2 separate regions of the Homo sapiens genome follow, and region 2 is linked to region 1. The links come from fine-mapping of genetic effects on gene expression. Tissue or cell type: pancreas. Region 1 holds a variant in brackets; the other region holds the start of a gene. All regions are shown on one strand. Distances are from middle to middle.

What was found. PIP is the estimated chance that this variant, and not a neighbour inherited with it, causes the effect. A credible set is the group of variants that fine-mapping cannot tell apart.
Region 2: ANXA5 starts here. The variant in region 1 is the best candidate, but not a certain one, in a credible set for the expression of ANXA5 in pancreas (GTEx, PIP 0.52).

Annotation. Positions count from the first base shown.
Region 1 is chr4:121,636,209-121,647,172 of GRCh38, forward strand. It overlaps LOC105377402 (a long non-coding RNA gene), which reads right to left. Exons shown (of 3, transcript XR_939167.3): 3 at 6,987-8,410. Among named protein-coding and RNA genes, the nearest start is that of ANXA5, 55 kb to the right of the region's middle. The variant G/C (reference allele first, on the strand shown) is at 4,631.
Region 2 is chr4:121,692,410-121,702,239 of GRCh38, forward strand. ANXA5 (annexin A5) reads right to left here and starts at 4,571. Exons shown (of 13, transcript NM_001154.4): 1 at 4,454-4,571; 2 at 4,172-4,215. The coding sequence starts at 4,180. RefSeq lists a silencer at 4,520-4,939.

The DNA of each region.
Region 1 (10,964 bases):
ACCTACTGGAATACACCATCTTCTCTTTATGTGACACCACCTGTTTACTATGTCTCTTACCCAACCCTGTGTAGACACACTTGTCCTTCTAGGGTGAACTTAGTCGCGTCACATGTGTCATGGATCATACACTGCAAAGCTTCACACTGTGCCCCACCTCAAGCATCAGAGGTCCAGATCCAGCTTCTGCTTCCTCGAGTCTGCTAATTTCTACCTGAGTTACTGGATCTTGTCTGGTAAAGTACTAAGATCTGACACTGTTTGCTACTGCTTCTGTACTTTTCATTTACTGCCTCAGAAAAATAATGCTCTATCAAACTAATCAGATATTTATTCCCAAGTTGGGCTGTTTATTCTTCTCTTGAACAAAGTATATATCATGCACTTACTTCAGTCAGAACTGCACTCTACTAAATTTCTGAGCTCCTTTTTCTTTCCCTCTTATGCCAGAATCTGGAAGCTGGCCTAAATACTGCAAACCCTAAATAACATTTGGCCAATCCAACTGTGATAACCAAACAGTAATTAGACTCAAGCTGAAGGTCAGATATTCAGTTGACTAATGTTCTATAAGGACTCATTAAATGATTGTCTGGGAAAAGCCTTCCCACATTGTGTCACATGCCAAATTATGTATCTTGGCCTTGTGTATAGATTCTGTCACCTTTTCTTACAACACTTGATAAAGAGCTTCTAATTTTCAAAACATGGTGGATGATAACACTTTCACATATAACCATCAAAGAAGCAGATTCTTCCTGGGTCCAACAAGACTATCCCATCACTTTAAAAGCCTATTGGATTATTAAGGAAATAAAGATGAGAGGCAAATGTGGAGAATATTCTTTTCAGCATTCTTAACTAGATATTGCAAATTATTTAAACATCGCACATAATAAAATGATATAGCCAGATGATGAAATAACATACAGTTGTTGAAAGTGATGTATAGTTGAAATATATTTATTGACATGGAAGGAAATAAAATAGTGAAAAAGAAAAGTGATAAAACATTTTGTAAAATAGGACTCCATTTTGATAAAAATCGCATGTGCATGTGGATAAAAAAATTCAAAAAGGTCATACTCATTGAATATAATACCAAATGTTAATAGCTGTTATCTATGGGATCACTGATTACTTTTTTTCTCTTCTTTCATATCGTATTTTCTACTTTTTCTACTATGAACATGTATTAGTTATGTAATAATTGTATTTATTTATTTTAAAGACAGGGTCTCACTCTGCTGCCCAGGTTGGAGTGCGGTGGCAAGGTCATAGTTCACTGCAGCCTCGAGCTCCTGGGCTCAATCAATCCTCTTGCCCTCAGTCTCTTAAATAGGTTGCACTACAGGCATGTGCCTCCACGCCCAGTGAAATTTCTTTTTTTTGGTCAGTGGGGACCAGGGTCTTACTTTGTTGCCTAGGCTGGTCTCAAACTTCTAGCCTCAAGCAAAAAGTGCTGGGATTACAGGCATTAGCCCCCCGCAGCCAACCTTGTAATAATATTTTTAACTATTCCCTGAATTTGTGAACCGTAAAATGATCGCATGTACATGTGCTCTATGGATAGTAATAGTTGATGTCCTTAATTTTGGTCTCATCCTTAGTTATAATTGCATTGACTTCAGAATTGAGGGCTCATATGTTTAGAAAAACAAGAGGCAGATTGAATCTATAACATTTTATGAACCATTTACACTGAAAAATATTGTAAATGGCTTTTTCAAAAAAAGTCATACACTAAATTTTTAATAGTGGTTAGTTCTGATTAATATGATGTTGAGTGAGTTTTTTTTTTATTTTGCTTTGCTTTCCTTTTTTTTTCTTACTTTTCAAAACATGCTACCCTTAAAATGTGGTTTTAAAGGGGAAGATGATGAAAAGTTATTGATATCATCATCTCTTATTATTCCATCAGAGTCTGGGAATGCTGGAACAGAGTAACCCAGTATAACAAGCTCTGCAGACTGCCCTATTAGTGCAGGGGTACTCAACCACATACCACTAATGGCTCAGAGTGTAAGACTTTACTAAAAATGCAGCTACATCGTTAACCACTTGATTGCAGGGACCATGTCTTAAACAATTTGTGCTTGCCGAGTGCATTGCATAAAGTAGGGGCACAGTATATTTGTCAAAAGAAATAATGATCATAGGTGGGAGGGAAGATGATGAAGAGAAGTGAGTTAAAGGGTACCAACAAACAGAAAAATATAAGGAATAAATTCAATATTTGATAGCAGAGTAGGATGACTATACTTAAAAAATGTATTGTGCTAGGGCAATGGAACCTTTAAATACCCTGACTTGAACATTATGAATTATATTCATATGAAAATTTTCTCATGTACCCCATAATTTGCACAAATAAAAAAAAGGACCATGGTAGAAAAAAAGAAATAATAAAGATCGTAAGACACTTAGAAGTTATAGGGGATTGACAGTCATCTGGATCCAACTTTAACAAAAATCACTACATTCATAGTGTTTGACCTCGCAGCCTTCGATCATCCTTACTTAAATAAAGAGACATCCAGCCTCCTGCTGCTTGCCCAGTTCCTAGTTCCACATCAATCTGTCTTTGTCTCAAACATATCCAGAGTTTCCCCACCCCCGCCCCCGCCAGTTTTCCCCCACCCCCACCAATTTTCTGGCTATCAGAGAGGGCTCAGCTCTCTATTCTTGATATATGACTGTGGTCTACCCTACTCAGGGAGACCACATAAGCTTTTCCAAAAGATAGACCTCTTCCCAAGTTCTGGAACTTGACCTCAACAATGTATAGATAGAAATGATTACATAAACACCACAGATGCCCTGTTCTTCCTTCCTACCATAAATATTTTTAGAATCAGGTTATAATTAAATGTATATGTCATCCAGATAGACTAATAATATGGTGCCCCCACAAAACAACATTTTGCAAATATTTATCCAACATGTTTTAGTGCTAGCAGGATTAGTGCCATCAAGAAATAATTTTTATAGCACTGCCATTTGTTTTCTTAATTTCTCCTTGAGGGAACTTCCTATGTTAGCAGGAATAAGACTTGGAAGTCTTCTGAAAATAGTAACCGTATAAGCAAAAGAAACGTGATGAATCTTCTTGGCATCTTTTCTAAGAGGTCAGACTTCATGTACTCCATGAAAGAGGTACAATGGGTTTAAGGAAATAACATCCTGAAATAAAATGTCAAGAAAGGAAAGAAGCAAAATAAGAGGATTACAGAAAAAACAAATACTTGATAACACTTGTAATTCATGTTGAAAAAAGAAAAGATCTGAATTAACATTAGAAAACCCTGAGAACATGAGAGAGAGGACAAAACTGAGACATATTTTAAAGCACAGAGAATAATGATAAAGAAATAAAAACCAATAAGGACAGAGAAGAGAGAATCAAACTAAGAATTCTATTTTTCTCTCAGGAAGAGACCAAAACAACTGACAAAATTCAAACTTATAAATAAAGAAGTATCTAAATTTTGAAGATTCTTCGGGGTCACAGATGAAACAGTTCACTTCATTCCTGGGAAAATAAATCCATAATTAGACACTCCTGGGTAAATTTTTAACATTAAAATAATAAAGAAAACAATCATAAACTTTCAGGATAATGGGGTAGAGGGAGAAGGGAAAATTACAGATTAGCCTCACTTTTATAATGTTAAATTTAAAAAAAAAAATCTACAGCTTTTGAACAAAAACAAATTTTATAACCAACCAAGTTGTTTTCCTGAAGAAAAACACTAAAAAGACACAAATATGCATGAACTCAGAAAACATTTCACAAATATCTGTGTTAAAAATACTCATTGAATATACACTGGCCAAAAATGAGATAAATCAAAGTAATAAACATTAATATTAGAAAATTATATATTAAAAGACTGGCGAGTCGTTGCTGAAATTGAACTCCAAATTCAGGAACTTAATCGGATAATATGTGCTGAAACAGATTCTGCCTTCTGTGGATAAATTATGGTCCTGCTTTCCCTGAGTTTCTCTTTTATTCATTCATTGAACAAGTATGAAGCACCTCCTTTGTGCCAGGCCCTGTTGGCCCCTAGAGATACAGTGATAATACAGTAAATAAGATAGTTGTAACCTCTTCTTTAAGTCATTCTGCAGTCTAATTTTTTCAGTTCTGTCCCTTTTCTAGCAGAAATAATTATTGAGCCACATTCTTCACCCCCAATTTAGCAAGAATTTCTTCTCAAATATGAGGTCTTCTTAGAATAATAACAAGTGTTATAGTCCAGCATTTTAAGAACAACAATTAAATTATTTTATAGTTGGGACACTGTGCCAGAAGAATTATTTTACAAAAGGTCTTTTGTTTCCCCTCCACAAAAGCAGAATTGCGCAGAGCAACATAATAGCCATTTTTATTGCCAAGAAATTTAAATAATGATTTTTTCCCACTTTAAACATCACGTTTAATTGCCAGGTGCTGTGGCTCATGCCGGTAATCCCAACACTTTGAGAGGCCGAGGTGGCCAGATCACCTGAGGTCAGGAGTTTGAGACCAGCCTGGCCAACATGGTGAAACCATCTGTACTAAAAATACAAAAATTAGCCAGGTGTAGTGGCGAATACCCATAATCCCAGCTACTTGGGAGGCTGA[G/C]GCAGGAGAATTGCTTGAACCCGGGAGGTGGAGGTTGCAGTGAGCTGAGATCACACCATTGCACTCTAGCCTGGACAACAAGAGTGAAACTCTGTCTCAAAAAAAAAAAAAAAATCACACTTAATGAACAGAATCCCTTGGGCTCTGTAAGTGGAAAAAATGCAGATATTATTTGTCTCCATGCCCATTTTCACATTGCCTCACATTTAGGACTTGGGTTGTTTCTGTGTTGACTATACTTTAAAGTAAGCCCTTATAGCAAGTAAACACATGAAAATGGTAATGGATGTTATTAAAGGACTTAACTGAACTTGGCTTCATTGCCCCTTCATTTTAGGGTCCTTTCTCCTTTCAAAAAGATGTTGGTTCTAAGGCCTTGGATATTTTAACTCAATATTCTTTCTCTCTCCCAAGCTTGCTTTGCCAGTACTTCAGACCTAAGTAAGTGAAATTGAAATACCAGAATAGTACATTACAGAGTGTTCCAATACTTTTGTTTGTTTGTTTTTGTTTTTGTTTTTGAGACGGAGTCTCACTCTGTCACCCAGGCTGGAGTGTAGTGGGATCAGGTTGGCTCACTGCAGCCTCCATCTCCTGGGTTCAAGCAATTCTGCCTCAGCTTCCTGAGTAGCTGGGATTACAGGCGCCCACTACCACGCCCAGCTAATTTTTTTATGTTTTTAGTAGAGACGGGGTTTCACCATGTTCGCCAGGCTGGTCTTGAACTCTTGACCTCAGGTGATCCACCTGCCTCGGCCTCCTAAAGCGCTGGAATTAGAGGCGTGAGCCACCGTGCCCGGCCTCCTCCAATACTTAACATAAAATCAGTACTGCATAAAGGGAAGATTATTTTCAAAGTTTAATTCTATTTCACAAATCTCTTTTCCTCTTGGATTAATTAGACTGAACAAATATTTTTGTGTCAAAAGTTTAAATAAATAAAGTATGTCTAATCTACTCAATATGAAATATTCTTCTGCCATTAAAGATGATGTTTATACAGAACTTGCAACAATATGGAATCTCAGAAAATGGATTAGGTTGGTTGTGAGGGGAGCTATAATAGTCACGGTTTGGTCAGAGAAGCAAATCCACTAGGAAATATACATAAAATGCATTTACTATGGGAATTTTTCCCTACCCAGTTGTAGGATCTAGTTAAACAATCTATGTGACTCCTTTGTCTCTGTATCTAGTGCCTTAAGTCCACAGGGTGGGGCAGTTGGGAAAGAAAGATGGACACAAAGAGGAAAGAGCAAGGGCAAACAGGAACCTGCTGTCAGGCTAGGATATTCCCCTACTTGCAAGCTGAAAGATTCACCTTCTATTGTTTTATGAATGTTGGCAGAAGACATAAGACACCTGGATCACAGATGAAGTACTTTGTTACTCACAATACAGCAAATGGCATGAACATCATGCTTGTCATAGTCCCCTTTGCTCCCCAAGTCCCACAGGGGCTTTACAGAAAATCTCAGATGGATACTGCACATGCAGCATATCTGTATCACAGCTGAGAAACACTGAGTTTGGAGAATCCATTACTTCTGTAATAAGCAGTAAGTAGTTTGTTCTTTGTCACAGTGGGAGATACGTCATCTTCAGCATTCTTGCTATAAACACAACCTTGAGAAATGACCAAATAAAAGGAGGCTTAAATTCTTGGCACATTCAACAAGAACACAAAGGCATGCTCACAGCGCATGGTGGATTGCCTCTTCCAATACCTCTGAGGCTGAGCTGAAACTCATGAAAGATGGATTGGAACCTTCCCTTATTTCTCACCACTTCCAAGTCTCCAACTTTGATGATGGGTGTGTCCTGCAGGGAAGACCAGTGTTTTTTCATCATAAAGTGAAATACACGTCTGGTCCAGGAGTTGGGGAGGCTGAAGGAGAATAAAGCAGGAGCTGCAGTAGATGCAGGTCCAACTATGGTACAATACTGACCAGGTGAGCCTGGTCTGTTTACAGTTCCATTTAGGTTATAGTTCACAGTGTACAGAAAAACCTTTAGGCCGAACTTAACATACGTAAGGAGGCAGCTTTAGGCTAAACTTGATTTAACACTGGGAACTGAAGGAACAATAGAAACCACACTATCCATGTTGTTTTGGAGGGCTCAAAGAACACCTCCCAGTTCAGTGATACTCTAGGAAGCCTCAAAGGTCCTCGTATAAAGTCACAGTGAAGAGCTATTACAGCAAAAGGGCCTAAAGCAAAATCAGCAGAGGAAAAGTCCCATGGGGCAAAGTCCAGAGGAGGCCACACACAAGCTTCCAAGAGCCCTCTTCCAGTGGATTCCTATGGGACACACTTATTATCCCAGCAATAAGTTAAAGGAAGATCGTTAGAGATTCACTTCTCAAGATTTTTATTGGGGGCCGGTTGTGTAGGCACTCTCTGCTTAACATATATCAAAATTCCGAACTCCCAGAAGGAAAGCAAGAGTTCCACATAATTCATATTGTTTGAACAATTTACGCACAGTGAGCTTCTCTTATCAGTTCTGGTCATGATGAAAACCCTCTCGAAACCCGAATTTCCAGATGCCATCCAAAGGCCAATCTTTCAAGCAGGCATTTCTAAGACTAGCAGTCCCAAACCTGCTGTGTGAACTCTTTTTTTTACACACTTGTCTTCATATGACAACAATCGTGACTCCATTGAAACTCTTGCTTTGTTCTCTTTATATGAGTGTAGAAATATGTTCTTCTGTTTGTTTTTTAAAAACTCATAAAAACAAAACACCTTTTCCCATTTCCATTTTCTGTGGAAAGGATTTTCTTCTAAGCTCTCCTCTTAACCTCCCCTCTTCCCTTTATTTACACTGGCCCTAGAAAGGTGGAGTCAGTTGGGTTAACTGATTGCTAAATTTGGAAAGAATAACTGAGGGTGTTTGACTCAATTCACCCTTAGGATTGTCCTGGCTTCAGGGAACTCATGTTCCTCTGATATTCCAGGAGTCTGACCCTTCAAAGAGAGGCCTACTGTGCTAGTATTGCTGGCACACTCAATGTTAGCAATATTCAATGTTCAATCAATATTCAATATTAGCAACCCATATGGCAGACCAAGAGCCCTTATCCCAACAGTAAAGATAATTTTTGGACCTCCTCTGCCTTATTTTTTGTTTTAGTTTATTAACTTGATCAGAACCAAGTGGGGAGGGGTGTTTCTGTACATGGAGTCCCTTCAGAGGCTCCAACAAACAACAGGAAGAACTATTTTGAAAATGGTAAAACATTACTTATTAGAGTGGTATTTTTTTCTTTCTCTATATCCTCAATTTTCTAAAATATTATCCTATTACTTTCACAATTTTTAAAAATTATTTTTATAGCCAACTGAAAATTATATGCTCAAAAGTTCTTGCTGTCTTTAAAGTCAGAAAGGAGCTATAGCTGATTCTTACATAACGAAGTCATGGGGAGAACTACCTTTATACATACACACGGTTAAGTTGTGATTTATCTGAGGGCTTTGCAGAATCAACAACTGTGGAAAAGTCACAAGAATCACAGTGAAAATCTCTTAAATCATGATTGCATAAGATAAAGGATATATTTGCTCTAGATGGGTAACTCTGAATTATACAATGTTATGGATAAATGTATAATCTATACAGCAATGTCGAGTATATTTTAAAGAATAAGCATGCAAAATATAATGTTGTAGCTTCTCCAGCAGTTTGCACATTTGAAGTTGAAGCAGATTTTTCGATGTTTATGCCCACCTTAGTTGGCTTTCAATTCCTTTGTACCTCTCTTCAGCAGAAAATCTGAAAGTAAAAACTTTTGTAATTGGGTCACCTTTTTGGTTCAATTTTACAACCAAAAGCCTTTCCAACCTCTTACCTAATGCTTTTTTATTCAGCTTAGTATTTATTAGAGTTCTTAATGTCAAGATTTGATAAAGTTCTCTCTTTCAAGATGCCTATTTTTCTGAGCTTTGCAACAAATTGCTATTTATTCACATGACACCATGTTTCATGAAAAGTGTATTATCATTAAACATTATTAGAATCCGACACTTTGTGGTGGGATGCTCAGGCTATGAGAAGCAAGAGGGAATGGATGTCTCCACCCTCTCTCACTACAGGTAAAGAAATCTGAAGTGCAATGTTATACTAACTACCCAAATTTTCTCTCTCCAATATTTCTCTCGCTTTCTCTCTATCTCTGTCTCTTCATCTCTCTTCTATTCTCTCCCCCCGCCCCAATTACATTTGCATTGGCTAAAGTGTATGGTGCTATTTCCTTAATAGAGTTAGCAGTGGAAGAATTAAACTGCTTTCTTAGGCGGGGTGCAGTGGCTCATGCCTGTAATCCCAGCACTTTGGGAGGCCGAAGCCGGCAGATCACTTAAGGCCAGGAGTTTGAGACCAGCCTGGGCAACATGGTGAAACCCTGTATCTACTAAAAATACCAAAATTATCCAGGTATGGTGGTGCTTCTTACTAGGACTTTCATCCATATGTTTGGTATCACAACTATTTCATACTTTATTTTCTTATGCATTGACAGAATGAAACACAAGATGTGTATTGGTCAGAACTCATGGTTACTATTAGTTTCTTTTAAGATAGTTAAACTAGTTTACCTACCTTAAACAAGTTTCTTTCTTTGTGTCAAGGACACTTTCTTTGTGTCAAATACAGTGTCAAAGATGAAATTACCAGAATATGGGGATAATGAAGTCTAAACAAAAATAAGATAATTATTAAAACATGAAATGGATACCCTTCTCACCTTCCTCTTCACCAGATAATCAGGAAGGTGAATACAGTAAACACCTCTTTGATGGCTACCTATGGAGGTGGGTATCCAACAGCCATGACTGTTCTTAGTAACTTTACTGCACAGCTATAGCTTATTGATGCAGGAATGGTCAGCTAACACAAGCTGGACCACTCAAATACTGTCATTTCCAATATTTGAAATTTTGAACTGAAAGACAGAGACAGGGAATTGTTGGAATGGAGTTATAGTAATGGCAACACATAAGGGATGAAAAATTCATGTATTCCTGCTGCTAAGTTCCCAAAATATACTCAGCTGTTTTCCATCATACTCAAGATTTAGTTGTTATTTCCCCTAATTCTTTGAGATGAATCAGTGTTGGTTGTTCATCCAACAGTCATTTTCTTCCCTACCTCTTCCTTGATAACAGAAGCCCTAATTGGTCATTTGTCTAGGAGTCACTGGGCCCCTTCCCAGACCCAAGGCAGTGAAGTTAAAGCCAGGTATGAAGAGTCTCATTCTCCTTACCACTGATTGGTTTATGCACAGGTACGCTACAGAGCTTGGGATAAAGTCAACTTTGTATCACCCAAGCTTTTTATCATCCCCTTCCCCCCTTATCTGGATATCGTCATATCTGCACATGATTCCTGGAACACCTAGAGGCATCTTAAAGCCACAAGGAGAGACTCGCCAACAGGCTGTGGTTAGAGAGAACAGCTAGACAAAAGGTACCTGAGTCTCTGATTGAGCTACTGAATTAGCCAACTCTGGGACCTCTGGGCTTCTTGTTACTTGAGATAATGAAGGTCCATATTATTTAAGCCAGATGTAATTGTGTTTTTGTTTACTTTGGGGTTAAATAAAACCAAGTGATATATCCAATATACTCACGATCAATTTCTTTTTTATACAAAGTACCTGAGTTTATTTCTGCTACTTGCTACCAAAGACTATAAACCAGTAGATTGTGGAACTGTGTGTTCCAGGTTTTACCAGGCTGCATGAACAAATGAGGTCACCTTTACATTAGTACTCCAAACACTGATGCTCTCACCCCACACCTGCTTGAGTAGCAGAAAATTCCATGTTTTATTTATATGTTTCTCCTTAAAGGTTTTCAAAAATCTCATGGAAATTCTTAGACTTGCTAAAGATTTACTAGTTACTTGTTTGTTTTTCATTATAATTTTATCAAATAAGCATGTGTTACTAAAATTATTATTTTAATTTTGTCTCTTCTTTAAAGTTTATATAAATTAAATCATAATATATGTATTTTATATCTTGATTCTTTTTTCACTCAACAATGTATATGCAAGATTTATTCACATTATTTGGTGGAGCTGGAGTTTATTTCATTGCTGAATATTCCATTAAATGATATGTAATAATTTAATTTATCCATTCTACTCTAGATATAGACATGGGTTATATCCAATATTTTTCTTGAATATTTTCTGTCCATGGTAGAATTACACTGTCTTTAAAACTGTATATTCTATTTTCATCACTTAACATTTTAGCATAAGCGTTTTTGTGTTGTTAAATTCTATTCCTAAAGATTATCTCTAACAGCTGTATAACACTTCA
Region 2 (9,830 bases), 56 kb after region 1:
AAGAATAACTCCAGTGATGTCTTGAGTGAGTTAAAGTGAGCAGGTGGCATTGGCCTCCCATGAGTTCACATTGAAGGTCAGAGGAGAGTATGCTCTTTTACCAAATTGTTCCATTGGGCATTCCATGAATAACACTTGAAAAGTTCTATCCCTTCCAAGACAAGGCTTGATTTCCCCACCTCACTGCAGTTTCACTCCATCATGCCAAACTCTTTTACACCCCTAAGTATTTATTTGCTGTTGTTACCTCTCTGTATGATGGCTTCCCTCCTTTGTCCCATACAAAGAATGCCAGCTAAGTAACCTCAATTTCCCCTTCTGTGAAACAAAAATAGTAATACCTATTTCCAAAACTGTGTTATGAGGACTAAATAATGCACACAAAAGACTTGGCAATGCATCTATTATATCAATAAATCTTAGATCCATTTCCCATTGCGCTCATGTTTAACAATACTTGGCACATAGTGAAAATGCAAAAGCCTCATGCATTCATGAATGCATGCATGGATGAAAAAGAGAACAGTTAAGAACTAGTGTCCCACCAGGCGCAGTGGCTCATGCCTGTAATCCCAGCACTTTGGGAGGCCGAGGCACACGGATCACTTGAGGTTAGGAGTTCGAGACTAGCCTGGCCAACATGGCGAAACTCCGTCTCTACTAAAAATACAAAAATTAGCCAGGCGTGGTGGCACATGCCTCTAATCCCAGCTACTCCGGAGGCTGAGGGAAGAGAATCAGTTGAACCCAGGAAGCAGAGGTTGCAGTGAGCTGAGATCACGCCACGGCACTCCAGCCTGGACAACAAAGCGAGACTCCATCTCGGGGGAGAAAAAAAAAAACCCAAAAAACTAGTGTCCAAAGAAATGAAGCCAGGAGTATAATTCCTTGCAATTAATCAATTGATGATATGTTTACATATTATGTAAACTAACTAAACTGAAAGACTGCGTCTAAGAAGCACTTAAAGCAAAGGTCTTAGGAGCCCTAATTTTTAAAAAACAGATGCATTTGTGAAATTTTAGAATAGTATGAAGGTTATATGAATAAAATGTATTTCAGGAATGAATCTATGCTGTAAAAGCACTGTTATATTTTTACCATTTTGAACTTCTAAGTCATTAAAAGAAGAAAGCCGGACTGCCTGCCTGTAACTAGCCTGATCACCTATGTAGGCCTTCCAAGGAGAACTGGATATTAGATAAGGAAATCAGGGTTTGCTGAATGCCAATGAATTGCTCAGTGGCTTGCAAAGCAGCCAAGTAGTTTTTGATCTAGTTCTTTCTCAGCAGCCAAAATGAACTTAAGAGTTAAACAGATAAGGAACCAAGAGAAATCACCAGGAGCAGCACAGGCCACGGGTAAACAGGTAACCCTGATCTAAGATCCCAAAAGTGAACATTAGCTCCAGAGAGACTTGACTTTAAAAAATGAATGGCATGAAAAGATGCAATCAATATCCAGTCAGCTCCTCTGGAAGGAGTTTCATCTCAAATTTATTTATTTACATTTATCCTGCTTGCTCGGCACAGGGCTTTTTTAAATTATTATAATAATTTTAAACCAACCGAAAATATTTCTGATCAAACCTTGTAACTTAAACATATACCATAGAGATAATTCTGATGTTCATGAGAACACTTGGACACAGAAAGGGGAACATCACACACCCACACCGGGGCCTATTGTGGGCGGGGGGGAGGGGGGAGGGATAGCATTAGGAGATACAGCTAATGTAAATATTGAGTTAATGGGTGCAGCACACCAACATGGCACCATGTATACATATGTAACAAACCTGCATGTTGTGCACACATACCCTAGAACTTAAAGTATAATAAAAATATATATATAATAAAAAATAAATAAAAAATAAACAAAAAAATTCTGATGTTCATGAAGCTTCTAATGAACAATTACGTAGCCTAGTTTTGCCTTCATGACATTCTTACTGCTCAGACGCCGCACCCAACTTTAATACTAAACTTTTTTTTTGAGACGTAGTCTCACTGTTGCCCAGGCTGGAGTGCAGCAGCGCGATCTCAGCTCACTGCAACCTCCGCCTCCCGGGTTCAAGTGATTCTCCTGCCTCAGCCTCCCGAGTAGCTGGGATTACAGTTGTGCACCACCATGCCCAGCTAATTTTTGTATTTTTAGAAGAGACGAGGTCTCACCATGTTGGTTAGGCTGGTCTCGAACTCCTGACCTCGTGATCCACGTGCCTCAGCCTCCCAAAGTGCTAGGATTACAGGCATGAGCCACCATGCCTGGCCAATACTAAATATTTTAACAAAATGTTTTACTTTCATGATTTCCAAAAATAGTAACAAAACTAGAACAAAATTTAACACTCTGTATCTTTTTTAAAACATTACTTGTAACTTTTATGATTAGTAAAAACTGTAGTTTTGATAGAAAACAGTCTTGGTGTTATATTGTCATAGGGCTCAGGTACATAATTTTATATGCAAACCACCATTCTCCTAGGTTTTCTATACACATGGCCTTTATGATACTAATCATTCTTTGAAATTATTAAAATTAATGTCCACAACTGGAAAATATGTTCGCTTATACTATTTGGGTAAACAGTCTACATAATGAAAAGGAATTGATGGACCCTCAGACATCACTGGGGAACTTACAAGAGATTCAAGAAACTGCTAAATGAGCAAAGATAGAGGGAATTATTATTCGATGCTTGTTAAATCTTCATGTACATCACCACACCAGCATATCAAGATAGGAAAAATATTACTCAGGAAAGTTAATTCCACATAAAAGTATCCTTTCTATGGAGAAGAACTTAAACCAAACTTTCCACTTGAAGTAATATGAGAATTGGTTTACTGTAACATTTAAGTGCAAAAGAGGAGGTAAGAATGGGATCACTGTGTAAGTTTCATAAAGTAATCAACTAATCTTAATCCTCCCATTTTCACTTGGAAAGGACCAAGAAACCTTTTTCAATTTTGATAAGTCAATCTGATAAAAAGTGAACTATAAATAAGAGACAGCATTGTTTTAGCAGTTAAAACACTTGTTTAAAAAAAACTATCTGGACTCTGACAAGCCGGTTAGATTGACAAGATCTGTGAAATCAGTTTTAGAGTTTTTAAGCCCTGGTATCTTATTCACAAAAGACTGTATAACATGGTCAATATTTAAAGACCTTAAACTATCTTCTCTTTCCTACATTTTTGATAAACATTAATAACAGTAAAGAAACCAGGCGCAGTGGGATTACAGTCCTGAGGCCGAGGCGGGAGGATCACTTGAGGCAAGGAGTTTGAGACCAGCCTGGCCAACATGGTGAAACCCCGCCTCTACTAAAAATACAAAATTAGCTGGGCATGGTGGGGCGCCTGTAATCCCAGCTACTTGGAAAGCTGAGACACGAGAATTGCTTGAACCCGGGAGGCAGAGGTTGTAGTGAGCGAGATCACTACGTCACTGGACTCCAGCCTGGGCGACAGAGTGAGACTCCGTCTCAAAAAAAAAGGAAAAAAAAAAAACAGTAAAGAAAGCCTGTAGTAGATTATCAATTTCTGAAACAGTCCCAAGGCAAATTCAATTGAGAACTCGTTCCACGAGTTCATTGCTTAAGAAAAACAGCGCTTGTGTTTAATCTTTTGGATTAAAAAAAAAATCAGAGCCTACGTCCTACAGTTTTAGTAAAACTGGGCTGAGCAACTGGAAAAAGCCAATGCTCAATCACAGTATTAAAATACAGAAAACTTTGCGGAAAAAAAATAAAGGAAGTCGGGGGGCGGGGTGGGGGGGGAATGCGTTCGCCTCACATGACCACGATGAGCTGTTCTTGCTCCGGTTCTAATTTGAGCTACTCTCTGGATTTTGGGGAAGGCCCACTTTTACACATTCACTCATGAAAAGGGAGCGCACACAAATCCGGCCACGTCACCAGCTGTTGCGCGCGAAGGCAGCTTGGCGGCGTCGGTGCTGGTTCCGGAGGGCGCTCAGCGGGAAGAACCGGGACACAGAAACGGGGGCAGGGAAGCAAAGGGGGAACAAGAAAAGTGGAAGCGATGTCCCCAAAGCAGGTTCCCTTTCCTCCTAAACTTTTTGGCTCTCAGACAAATCCTAAAAGTCCCTCGTCGCAGCATACAAAGTTGTGGGTAAATCCAGCGCAGTGGGGGGCGCACGGCCTTACCTGTGCCATGGCGACTACTCAGGTCAGGGGAAGGTGAAGCAGGACTGCAAAAGAGAAGAAACCTCGGGCTTAGCGCGCCATTTGCAACTCGTGCCCTCCCCAAGCGCAGGTCCGCGGGGACCCGGCGGCGCTCAGACAGCCCGGAGGGCCCCGCCACGGGGCCGACCCGCCCTCTCGCAGCTACCGGGACAGCTCTCGGCCGAGCGTCCGCGCGAATCCAGTGCCCCGCGACCACGCTCTCCTCTCCAGAAGGAGCCCCCTCCCCGGGCTGCGACCACTCACCCAGACTGTGGGACCCAAGTGCCCCGAAACCCCGGGAGAGCGGCGGAGAGCCGGGCGACGGTACGCGGGGCGACGCCGAGATGCAGACGCTGAAGGATCCGGCAGCTGCACCTAGACTGATCCAAGCAACGGAAACGCCAGCGGCCCCACCCCGGCCCTGCCCGGCTTGGCCCGTCCCACCCCCGCCAGGGCCCCAACCGCAGGCCGGCCGCGCCAGCCGGGCCCGCCCCTGCCCCGGCCTCAGCGCGCCTGCGTGGGTCGCGGCTCGTCCCAGTTGGTCTCCCGCGGCGCGGACTGTCCCGCTGGTCTCGCGGGCCTGGGTGGGGAGCGGCCGCAGAGCTGCTGGAACCAGGAGGAGGCGCCGCTCCCCCGAGGGCCCCGGAGACCTCTTGTCCTCGCGCCGCGGGAAGGGCCTGGGGAGCTGTCCAGGGCTCGGGGTTTTGGAGGTGCTTGAGCCTCCCTGCCCTCTGTGACCGCAGGAACCGTAGCCTCACTTGGGTGCTCAACATAGTGCGTGGGCGTCTTTTTGGAGGCGAGACAAAATCATCGCAGCTAAGGACAGCGCGCCTTTGTCGATGGGATAGAAAAAACGTGAAAGGAGGGCCGTTTCCCAAGTTGTTTTTGTTTCTGTTTTGTTTTGTTGTTTTGTTGTTGTTTTAATGCCTATTATTGCTTCCTAGATGGCCCTCTCTTAAATGTACAGCCTTCTAGTAGCGTATGTGGGCTATTTGAAAACCTCTGCTTCCAATCAGTTTCTGTTTTCAAAACTAGCCTAGAACTTTAATATGACTTAAATTTGAGCAATGCCTCATATTGGTTCAACATAAAATATATGAGTATATGAGAGAGAGGGGGAGGGAGGGAGAATCTACAGCGTATTGTACTAGCATGGTGCTGTGTTCTGTGAAAGGGCTTTATATGCAAAGCAGCCCCCAAACGCGAAGGAGTCAAGAAACCAAAGAACGAGACAGACAAATCCAGTCTGTAGGTAATAGGGGTGCTATTGGAGGATGTGGTAGACAGAAGCGTGGCCTTGGGCGGCGGCAAGCAGATAAATTTCTGCACTGTTACTCCCCAGACCCTGGCCTTATATACCGTAAGGAAAGAGTATACTGCTCTGTGCAAGACAATTAAAGGCAGCCCTCCGGAACAGGTGAGAATGCCGTATGCTTCATAGCCTACAATGTGGGCAATAGCATCAAGGTTGACATGTTCTTATGCTAAGGACAGTTTAAAAAAAAAATCCTAGGAATCAGGAGGTATTCATGGGACTGGGGTTATTAAAGGTCAACATGGCGGATTAGCATCCGGGATATAATCACTTTTGTCTCCATATGCTGGAAAAGGAAAAGTAGAAGACACAGGGACCTTCTCAGACTTACTGGTGTGGGGAGGGAAGGTGCCAGGGCAGAGGGGGCAAGAGGACAAGTTTGCGACACTAGATGCAGTGTTCTAGACATATGCTAGAATGGGAAGGGCAAAGTGCTTCTCAACGTGGAGGTTAAGGGTAAGAGATGAGGATCTAGTCTTCTTTGAGAATGAGGAAGAATAAATTAAATGGACAGCAAATGTGGTTCTTTGTATAGAACTTCTCATTCGCTTTCACGTGTGAACCACATGCCTATTCCAGCCCTGACAAAGTCACAACAGAGTGGTTGTTCTCTGGGAAAGGAGGCAAAATTGCAAAATTTGTGGAGCTTGCCAACCCCATCACCCCCACCCCACTGGCGGGTTGCCTTTCCTCTGGGAGCCTCCTCTCCACCAGCCCAGCTGTCTACTCAGCCTCAGGCTCTCCCCAAGTCAGCACCTCCCCCGGGTTTTCTTTACAGGTATTAATATATCTGAAGGCAGCCCTTTTCTGAGCATCTGTCTCCGTTGCTCCAGCTTTTCTACTTTCTCTCTGCCCTGCACCAAAAGCAGGACCTGTAGTCTTGCCTAGAGCATTCTTTTTTCTCACCCATATCCACTTGAACTCAGTTTGCTTCTCTCACTTTCTACTCTCACATTAATGGAGTTAAACAGGACCTCAGAGATCCTGTATTTAACAATCATTGATTTTACAGGGACATGAGACTCATCATGGGTTAGTGACTTGCTCTATGTCCTGCAGCTAAATACTGACAAAATCGATGAGTTATTGGACTCAGAGTCTTGAAATACTCCAGGTAGCATTTCTTTCACTTCCAGTAATATCAGTTTATTCAACTCCTACTCTGGACCAGGCACAGATCTAGGTGCTGGGGTAAACACGGCAAGTGAAACAAAGGCCTTGCCCTCATAGGTCATACATTCTGGTGGAGGAAACAAACAATAAACAAGTATCTAATATGTCCTGTGTGATGCGTGGTATAAAGAAAATAAAGGCTAGGGAATGGAAATGAAGGGAACACTTATTTTGCAAAGGTGATATGAAGCCATTTCTGAGAAGCCTTGAACAGAAACCTAAATTGATACAATTTAATTGTATTTGACAACTATACACTGAGCACCTGTGGAAAGGCCATACCTAAGAGTTTGCACCTTAATATTATAGATAAAGCATGTATATGAACACTACAATGAGAGACTATAAATCAGGAAAGAAATGCCTAGAATGCAATCAAAATGCAATTAGTTTCAGAGGAAGGAGCTAATATTTTGTCAGATGGTTGACATAGCATTTGGATTAGGCTTTTGAGAGAGGATATTTTATCAAACTATGAAGGGGAGAAAGGGTGGTCTGGTTAAGTGAACTGCAAAACCAAGAGAAGGAAAGTATCTCTTTGTGTCTGTGTGATTTGAACTGTCTAAAATGGCTGGAGTGGAAGGTACAATATTAGAGTTGAGAGATGTAGAAACTAAAACACAAAGAAGCTCAGCGACTTATTTAGAATAAAGAGAGATTGCCACATAAAGATTCTGCTTTGAATTGTGTATTTAATTGATGGATTTTGAACAACTGATGTTCTTAACTACTGAGTGATATAAATGATAGGCACTCAGGAAATCTCTTTCACTACCTCTTGTCAGCCTAATAACAAACAGAGAGGGAGACTTTCTAAAAGAAAATGATGTTTATTTGGGAATGGGCATTGCAATGGGAATATGTGTGCCATATTAAACTATTTTGCGTATTCAGGGAGGTAAAGGAAGGCAAAGGTTTTTCAAGGAAGAAGGAAGATTACATCATTGTTTTTGAGATAATTATCCTTGGCTACAGTAATCAATAACTAGAGTGGCACCAGTCTAATGTTGTACAGGCAGTTGCTGGGCAGATGTCTCCGCAGAAGTTCTCATTTTCTCTCTCTCTCTCTCTCTCTCTCTCTCTCTCTCTGTGTGTGTGTGTGTGTGTGTGTGTGTGTGTGTGTGTGGTTGCAATGGCCTTTGTCCAAAGTTGTGGTTTTTGCAGTATTTTTCAATAGTTCTTGTTATCAGGCATTTATGTATTAGAACCCTCCCTTCATGGCCTTCCCCAGCCATTTGTCAGGGATTTGTCTCGTTTTTTAACACAATTGACTCCATTTTGATAAGGACAGCTTTCACACTCTTAAAAACAAGTGTCTGTCATTCATCCCCCAATGGCCTTTATCAGTGTCCAAATGTCATCTTTAGAATCTCTGCCGGATTCGCCAGTTAAGTCTTTCATCTTTCTAATTAAATTTTCTCTTCTTACACATTTAAAAATTAAAGTCCTTCTTTCTCAGTGTATTGTCTTTGTGTTGTGTTCATTATAAGTACTACATAATAATTGTGGGGAGTTTTTTATACTATTCTTAGATATAAATAATGAGTTTCAGCTGTTTTCTATGAGACACTCAGGTCACATCAATTTTCTTTTTATTAGAGAAATATACCAAATGCCAGAGAACTAATTTACAAACACACTTTTGAAACTGTATTTATTTGTTAACTCAGGATTTTCCCTATTTCTCTCAATTATTTGGATCATTCAGGAACTAGCCAATTTATTCTAAATAAGTCGCTGAGCTTCTTTGTGTTTCAGTTTCTACATCTCTCAACTCTAATATTTTGATCATATATTCATGGCCCTACTGTTTCCCTTGATTATAATGACACATAAAGAAAAGAAAATGAGTTACAGGCTTTTTATAAATAAGTACAAAACAACTCTTCTTTAGTTTTAGAGGAATTGGAATCTTGTTTTTTAGAAAATTATAACATTTTCAACCAGTCTACTTTAAAAATTGATTTTGTTTAATAAATATATCTATTGCAAATTATGGCAAGTTAAAGAAGAAGAAAAGATGGCAGGAGAATGAATTGCATGAAGCAGAAGAAACGAGAGAGTGGCTGAGGAGTAAAGTAGGGGCTAGATACAAAGGGAAAGGAGGAACATCATGTCTTCCAGGCAAGATCTGGAAAAAGCACACTCTCTGAAGACAGAGACAGTTGAGTTCAAATCCCTACTCTGCCTGCATACCAGGGATGTGACTTGGACAAATTATGTGATTTCTCTGATCCTTGGCTTCCTTATCTAGAGTGGAGGCTAGTTTCAAATAAGTTAATTTGTGAAACTGCCTAACAAATTGTGAAAAAGGGTTGATTCCATTCCCCCATGGCTCTTTTTTCTTTCAGAAACACTAACCATCATTCTCAGTTCCTGTTCTGATGATTAAGGACCCACCTTCATATTAAAAGCAAAAATAACCTCCTCTGGACCCACTGCTCCACTGCAGCAGGACCTATTGCCAGCCAGTCTCTCAGAGACGGCAGGTCCAACTCTTGGGGGCCAACCTGATGCTTCCTGGTGCCATTCCCCCTTCTTCCCGCCTATTCTGCCTCATCCAGAGTCTACCATCGATGGCCCCTATCAACATACAACTAGCCTAGACCCCCACCCTCTACCCTTCTCTCCACACGTGGGCCCTCTGATCCCCATCTGCTGGTGCCAACAACTGTAAAACCGTCACCTGGAATTTAATTCAAGTCACCTATCTGCCCTCAACTCATTCATGTCTTAAAGTCCCAGGGTGAGATTAGAGGTGGGGCTGCCTTCCTCAGTGGGCTCTGTCAAGTCTTTTTCCACCATCATCTCTACATCCCAGCAGTGATACTGGAATGTAGCTTTATTCTAGTGGCTCCCCATTCTTGCTCTTTAGGTTTAAAGTGGTTGTAGTGTCTCTGGAGAAAATAGGTCTCTCAGTGTGTTCAGGCTGCCATAACAAAATTGCATGAAGTGAGTAGCTTATAAACAACAGAAATGTGTTTATCACAGTCTGAAGCCTGGAAAGTGCAAGAACAAGGTTCCACAGATTTGGGGTCAGGTGAGGGCTTGCTTCCTCATAGACAGCCATCTTTACTGTAACCTCACATGGCAGAAGAGACTAGCTAGCTCTCTGGGGTCTCTTTTTTAAAGGCACTCTTAGTCCCTTTTCTG